2 separate regions of the Homo sapiens genome follow, and region 2 is linked to region 1. Evidence: fine-mapped expression QTL. A gene starts in region 1. The other region holds a variant in brackets. All regions are shown on one strand. Distances are from middle to middle. Region 1 holds the start of DAP3 (death associated protein 3). Region 2 overlaps DAP3 (death associated protein 3).

Region 1 (4,000 bases):
ACATACATATCTGACACAATCGGTCTCCCCCAAATACAAGCCAACCAGTCTTATGTGCTCCTATCTTTCCAGCATACTCAGATTTGCCGACAAAGACTTCCTGAGGCACCATGGTATGCTGAATATACTGCTGCAGTAGTAGTGAAAATATGGGAGTTACAGTTCCAACTTTGTCACCAATTTAACATGCGGCCTTGGAGAAGTTCTCTCCTTATGCCTAAATTTCCTATTTTGTAAAATGGAAGAAAGCATCCTACCATTTTCACAGAGATTCAGTATCACAAAGAAACTGAAAGAGCTTTCTTATTGTATTGTAAACTATTACTATAAACCCGCGACAACAAATAAGGCCACCCATTCTTTACAGCTTTGTAGCAATGATTCTGTTAAAGATATTTTGGCCCTTCACATTTACACAACTCACTCTAACCAAAGGCACAAACTATTCTTAAGACCACAACTGGCTATGCCAAGTTTCTCCCCTCCCTGACCTCACAGACACATGCTGTACAGAACACTACCATTGCCGCTCTTTCCCAACAAGTAACTAGGGGCTCCCAATCCCTAAAATACACACACATATCAACCTGCAAGGAACCTCCCAACATTTATTCAAGAAATAAGCTAACTTATAAGGGGAACTCCATTACACTTACACAAATAAAGGCAAACTCTTACGGAAACACTTGCCATCCTCACATACACACACCAACACAGCCGCTACACACCAACAGACCATCTGTCTGCTAGACCAAAAACATCTCTTTCCATGTACAAACTAACCAGTGACATTTATTAAACGTACAACACTGAGATCATCCTGTCGTTCCCACATACCGTTCAACGCGGCAGGGACACCACAGACCTTGTCACACAGGTAAAATCCCCTCTCAAGATCGTGTCCTCGACCACTCTTATCCCTTAATTAAACACACACAAACTGGACTATGGGGGAGGCTCCGATCATGCCTACAAACACAAACTAACCTGTCAGGGGCACAGCCGACTCCGCCTCCACTCGCTTACTTCCCAGCCCCCTCCGGGAGTCTGCCTGTCAGGGACACCCCTTCACCCCGCCTGGAGGGACTTCCCGGTAGGCTCAGGATCCCCCTCCCTGCTCTCCCCTCCCCCATCTTCACCACTGCTCTCCCAGAGGTCCAGGTCCGGGAGATGACAGTGGCTCCCAGAAAGCCCAGGATTCAATCGCTGAGAGAGTGCTTAGGCCCGAATGCCGGCCCAAATCGTTCTACTCACCGTGTCGGAGGCCGAGAGCGATGAGAGTACAGGGAAGTGAGGAAGAGGGGGTGGCCGCCAGGCTCCTCCGCTTCCCTGGGTCCACCGCGGATCCCTCCCGCTTGTCAGGAGGCGGCCAGCGGGTAAGCCGACTGGCGGAAATGCGAGAGAGGAGAAGGGAAAGGTGGAGGGCTAAAGGGGCAAACTGAGAGGAGGCGGATCCCGCAACCGACACTGGGATCGTTTCCCCTCGCAAAGCGAACCCAAAATGGCGGCGGCAGCGGCGGCAGCAGAGTGGCCGCGGCAGCTCCTCCAGAGGGAGGGAGCTAAGGGCGCCTAGCGACACCCCCAACCTCCCACTCCTCCCTCCTCGCGTTCTTCCCCACGGTCCCCCGCTTCGCCCGACTCCGGCCATGTAGCGCGCACGTCAGCCCGCACGCGTACGAGTGTCTACGGGCTCGTCGCTGGCTGCTCCCACCAACCACCACCTTCGGCCGTCCTGCGAGCCAGCCATCCCGTACGCGCTCACCCACGGGAACCTCCTCGCCCAGTTCTCCACTCCCCCTCAGACCCTGTCAAGCCGGCTCCAGCGCAGGCCCTCACGCGTACCTTCAGCGGCGCGAGCCCAAGCCTTCTCCACCTCCTCTTCTCTCCTCCCCCTCCCTCCCCGCCCGCACGGCCACCAACCGCCGCCAAAGCAGCCGCCGCCAGCACCCCCACCCTACACTCCTCGCGCGTGCGCCTCCCACAGTCCCCACCGCGGGACTGTTCCATTCCTGGCGGCTGCAGGGGCAGGAGAGGAAGGGACCGGCAAAGCGAGTCTGGCTTGCCGTTTGACTGGAATTGCCAGGGTGGCCGGCCGAGTCCCATGACAACCTACCTCCCTGGGTTCGTCGCCGCGGCGCTGCGGCTCGCCTCCTCCTCCATGGGACCGCGGCGAGGGGATCGAGGGCGGCCTAGCGCCCCTCTGCCGGCCGGTGGTTGGAGGCCGCGGCGGCTGCGCGTTGAGTCGTTTCCTGCCGGATGACCCGACCCTTTTTTGCAGTCTCAGGACGGGCGCTTTGGAGCCGGCCCCAGGCAGCGTGTGTCGGTCGCCTAGTCTGGAGAACTAGTCCTCGACTCACGGTGAGGGAATGGACCGACACGGGTATTGTACCGCTGAGGGAAAGGAGCGGGACTCCGGACCTCCAGGAGGTAGGGAGTGAGGCCGGTAGACCGGCGCGCCTCCGGGGGGGATTCCTCCCGGGCGTTGAGTTGCCAACCTGGGACCCGAGGAAGTTCGGCGTGGTGGTGTGCTTTTTGTTGTTGTTAACCCTCCTCGGATTTCTCGAATTTCACACCACTGTCCATATGCGATGATGTTTGTTTGCCCTTGACGCACTTACTCATGGATGGTACTTCAGCCTCGTTAGACAGCCTGGTGATGGAGGATGAAGAAACCATGTGCTTCTCATTCAGTTCTGGACTCAGTTTCCCTTGTCTTCAGCAAGTTATTTTTGTTAGTTCCTTATCAAAAAGTGTACATAAAAATTAGGCAACTCCAAACATGCCTCCAGGGTTGGTGTGTGAAATAATAAGATAGGGCTGGGCGCGGTGGCTCACGCCTGTAATCCCAGCACTTTGGGAGGCCGAGGCAGGTGGATGACAAGGTGAAGAGATCGAGACAATCCTGGCCAACATGGTGAAACCCCGTCTCTACTAAAAATACAAATATTAGCCGGCCGTGGTGGCGGGCGCCTGTAGCCCCAGCTACTCGGGAGGCTGAGGCAGGAGAATTGCTTGAACCCGGGCGGCGGAAGTTGCAGTGAGCCGAGATCGCGCCACTGCACTCCAGCCTGGCGACAAAGCGAGACTCCGTCACACACACACACACACACACGAAATAATAATATATGTAAAGTGGAATTAGCTCCTAGGCATAGGGAAGGTGCAGAGTATTGCCGTGTTGTCATTTACAGTTCTGTTGATGTCGATAACGTTTGTGGGTGTAATGGGTAGTGTTCTGTCCCTCCAAGTCGTTAATAAAACAAAGCAGGCCGGGCGTCTTGTTAAATAGTTGTATCAATGACTTGATTTAGATTAATGAGGATATATTTTTCAAATTTATGCCTTTTACAAAATTTTTAAAGAGTAGGTAATGTCGGTGATAGATATAAAGAAAGGAAAAGATCTCCAGATGTGGAATCTTCTACTGGATCCTGTAACAGAAAGAAGACATTAGGCTGGGCGCAGTGGCTCACACCTGTAATCTCAGCACTTTGGGAGGCGGAGGAGGGCGCATTGCTTGAGCCTAGGAGTTCGAGACCAGCTTAGGCAACACGGTGAAACCCCATCTCTACAAAAAGACACAAAAATTAGACAGGTGTGGCACACGCTTGTAGTCTGAGCTACTTGGGAGGCTGAAGCAGGAGGATTGAGGAAGAGGTTGCAAAGTTAGCCGAGATCACGCCATCACACTGCAGCCTAGGTGACAGAGCGAGACCCTGTCTCAAAAAAAGAAAGAAGACATTAGCAGAAAAGCTGAGGAAATGCAAATAAAGTCTGCAATTTTTAAATAGTATTGTACCAGCTTTAATTTCTTAATTTTGAAAATTGTACCATGGTCATATGTATGTAACATTAAGGAAACTCTAATGAAAATTGTAAGAAAGCACTTTGTACTACCTTTGCAACTCTTCTGTAAATTTACACTTTTTTTTGTTTGTTTGCTTTGAGATAGGATCTATGTCGCCAAGGCTGGAAGGCAGTAGTGCAGTCCTGGCTCACT
Region 2 (4,000 bases), 45 kb after region 1:
TATTTCATTGCTAATACTTTACAGTCTCTAATTTTATGGACAGTAAGTTATTATGTCTTATTTAATTCCTGTATCTGTACCAAGTTAGAAATAAAGTCTGAATTAAAATCTATATATATGTGGTTTATAATCTTTCCAAAGTAAGTTTATTCAAAACCATTTTATTTAAATATTGGCCTAATTTTATTTTGCTTGCAGACATTTAAAGTGTTTTTGTATCTCCTTACCGTCTTTGGAAAAGAGTTTGAGACCCACAAATATGTCATGGTAAATTTAAAATCAGGTAGCAGTTTATTGTCAGAGCCAAATCTGGAATAACCAATTTAGTTGCCATTTAACTGTGCTAGACCACACTTTTGTAACACTGTATGCCCAAGAAAGAAAAAAAAAATCTACAGATGATTAATGCAGTTTTCCATCCTTTTTAACTTTTTCCAGTTCAGCCTTTTCTCTTTTCTTTCAGCATGGAGGCGCCATTGTGTCGGCTTTGAGCCAGACTGGGTCTCTCTTTAAGCCCCGGAAAGCCTATCTGCCCCAGGAGTTGCTGGGAAAGGTCAAGTCAAAGGAAAATTTGTTTCTACTTAGATTGTTATCCTGTTTAAAGAAAAATATTTTTATTAATCTATGTATTTTGACATAATTTCAGACTTAGAGAAAAATCATATTCCTGTATGCCCTTCCCCTGGATTCCTAAAATATTAACTTGATCATCATTGCTTTATCCGTCTCCGTCTTTCTCCAGAGTTTCTTTTCTTTTTTTTTTTTTTGAGACGGAGTCTTGCTCTGTCAACCAGGCTTGAGTGCAATGGCGCAATTTCGGCTCACTGCAACCTCCGCCTTCCGGGTTCAAGTGATTCTCCTGTCTCGGCCTCCTAAGTAGCTGGGATTACAGGCGTCCACTACCACGCCCAGCTAATTTTTTGTATTTTTAGTAGAGACGAGGTTTCACCATGTTGGCCAGGCTGGTTTCAAGCTCCTGACCTCAAGTGATCCGCCTACCTCAGCCTCCCAAAGTGCTAGGATTATAGGCGTGAGCCACGGCGCCTGGCCTTGATGCTTCTTTGTCTCCAAATAATGTCTCATTCCTAAGAACAAAGATACTCTAATATACCCTGAGCATAATTATCAAAGTCAGAAAATTGACATTGATATCATACTTTTACCTAATTGGTGGGATTTATTCTGATGTAGCCAGTTATCCCAGTATCTTTTATAGAAAAATAAATCCCAGATAATGTGTTACATTAAGTTGTCATGTCTCTGGCTGGGTGCGGTGGCTCATGCCTGTAATCCCAGCACTTTGGGAGGCCGAGGCAGGCGGATCATGAGGTCAGGAGATCGAGACCATCCTGGCTAACATGGTGAAACCCCGTCTCTACTAAAAATACAAAAAATTAGCCAGGCGTCGTGGCGCGTGGCTGTAATCCCAGCTACTCAGGAGGCCGAGGTAGGAGAATCGCTTGAACCCGGGAGGTGGAGGTTGCAGTGAGCCGAGATTGCGCCACTGCACTACAGCGTGGGTGACAGAGCGAGACTCCGTCTCAAAAAAAAGAAAAAGTTGTCATGTCTCTTTGGTCTCCTTTAATCTGTGACAGTCTGTCAGTCTTTGTCATTTGAAATCTTTATGTTTTTGGCATGTGCATGCCAGCTATTTTGTAGGTCACTTTTTGGGGTTGTCTGAGGTTTCCTCCTGAATAGAAGTGATGTTAGAAGTGATGACATGTCTGAGTGAGTGCATCCTATCAGGAGGCACATTTCTCCCATTACTGGTAATGATTTTGGAACTGTTAGCTGAGGTGTTGTCCATCTGGTTTCTCTTCAGTAAAGTTATTATTTTGCTTTGGAATTAATATGTATGTTGTAGAGATATACTTTGAGACTAGGTA[A/G]AGATCCTGTTACTTCTCAAACTTCCACCTACTGGTTTTAGTATCCATTACTTTAGTTATACCTGGCATGGAGCCTCCGCAGCTGGTATGGTCTTGTGGATTTTTATTTAATAGAATCTAAATCATTACTGTCACTTTTTATTTTGGTGCTCAAATCATCTTAGATTTGGCCATTAAAAATTCCTTCATTGGCCGGGTGTGATGGCTCACGTCTGTAATCCCAGCACTTTGGGAGGCCAAGGCGGGTGGATCACGAGGTCAGGAGTTCAAGACCAGCCTGGCCAATATGGTGAAATCCTGTCTCTACTAAAAATGTAAAAATTAGCCAGGTGTGGTGGTGCGTGCCTATAGTCCCAGTTACTCTGGAGGCTGAGGCAGAAGAATCGGTTGAACCCAGGAGGCGGAGGTTGCAGTGAACCAAGATTGTGCCATTACACTCCAGCCTGAGCCACAAAGCAAGACTCCGTCTCAAGAAAAACAAAAAACAAAAAAACAATTCCTTCATGGCCAGGCTTGGTAGCTCACAGCTGTAATCACAGCACTTTGGGAGGCCAAGGCAGAAGGATCCCTTGAGCTCAGGAGTTTGAGACCAGCCTGGGCAACAAAGTGAGACCCCATCTCTACAAAAAAAAATTTTAAAACTAGCTGGGCATGGTGGCATTCACCTGTAGTCACAGCTACTCTGGAGACTGAGGTGGGAGGATCGCTTGAGCCCGGGAGGTCAAGGCTGTAGTGGGCCCTGATTTTGCCAGTGTACTCCAGCCTGGGCAATAGAGTGCGGCCCTATCTCAACAGGAAAAAAAGCTCCTTCAAGCTAACTTCTATATCCTTTTAAAATGTCCCCATCATTATTTTTTTGGAGATAGGGTCTCACTCTGTCACCCAGGCTGTAGTGCAGTAGCACCATCATAGCTCACTGTAGCCTTGAGCACATGCCACCACACCCAGCACTGAATGTTGTCTTTTTCTTTTCTTTCCTTTTTTTTTTTAGAGGCATGGTCTTAACTATGTTGTTGCCTAGGGTGGTCTTGAACTGCTAGCCTCAGGCAATCCTCCCACCTCGGCCTCCTAAAGTGCTGGGATTACTGGCGTGAGCCACCATATCCAGCTCCTATCATTCTTTGACCACTTCTTTATTTTCTGTCATGAGAATATGTTCCAGACCCCTCTTATACTTCCCATGCCCAGCCCTGGAATCTCCATTTCTCCAAAGAGCATTGGCTTATTTTAGAGGAGACTGGTATTTAGCAACCAAGGCCTGAGTCCTAGGTATACTCACTGCTACTGAGGTGTCCTTTCTCCTAGGCCCTCACAGCAAAGTTCATAAATAGATGTACATACATACATGTATGTATGTATATGTGTGAACCATATGCATATACATGTTTATACACATCCACACACATCTGCGTTTGTTTCTCTAATCATATTAAAAAACTATGAGTTCCTACTAGTAGCCAATTCCATGCTACCATCACAGCAGTCATTATACCCTTTCCATATCTGTAACTCTAATCTAAAATAATGAGAAATCTGCTGCCAGTAGCCATAGTATATTTACTTATTAGCTCAATACTAGAATATATGAAAAGTAGTTTCAGATTTGATAGCTCTCAGGCTGGGCGTGGTGGCTCATGCCTATAATCCCAGCACTTTGGGAGGCCGAGGCGGGCAGATCACGAGGTCAGGAGATCTAGACCGGCCTGGCCAACATGGTGAAACCCCGTCTCTACCAAAAAATGAAAAAAAAAAAAAAAGAAAAAAAAATTAGCCGGGCGTGGTGGGGCGCCTATAGTCCCAGATACTCCGAAGGCTGAGGTGGGAGAATCGCTTGACCCTGGGAGGCAGAGGTTGCAGTGAGCTAAGATGTGCCAATGCACTCCAGCCTGGGAGACAGTGAAAAAGAAAGAAAAAAATAAGTTCCTTGGGCCGGGCGCAGTGGCTCACGCCTATAATCCCTGCACTTTGGGAGGCCAGGGCGGGCGGATCACCTGAGGTCAGGAGTTCAAGACCAGCCTGGCCAACATGATGAAATCCTGTCTCTACTAAAAATACAAAAAATTAGCTGGGCATGGTGGTGCAGGCATGTAATGCCAGCTACTCGTGAGGCTGAG

The links. PIP is the estimated chance that this variant, and not a neighbour inherited with it, causes the effect. A credible set is the group of variants that fine-mapping cannot tell apart.
Region 2: its variant is the best candidate, but not a certain one, in a credible set for the expression of DAP3 in whole blood (TOPMed, PIP 0.59).

Annotation. Positions count from the first base shown.
Region 1 is chr1:155,686,817-155,690,816 of GRCh38, forward strand. It overlaps DAP3 (death associated protein 3), which reads left to right and starts at 2,275. Exons shown (of 13, transcript NM_004632.4): 1 at 2,275-2,358. It overlaps YY1AP1 (YY1 associated protein 1), which reads right to left and starts at 1,958. Exons shown (of 11, transcript NM_139119.3): 1 at 1,843-1,958; 2 at 1,255-1,385. It also overlaps the pseudogene LOC124904430. RefSeq lists enhancers at 1,364-1,998, 2,374-2,423 and a silencer at 1,834-1,883.
Region 2 is chr1:155,731,481-155,735,480 of GRCh38, forward strand. DAP3 (death associated protein 3) reads left to right here. Exons shown (of 13, transcript NM_004632.4): 11 at 464-553. Among named protein-coding and RNA genes, the nearest start is that of DAP3, 44 kb to the left of the region's middle. The variant A/G (reference allele first, on the strand shown) is at 1,887.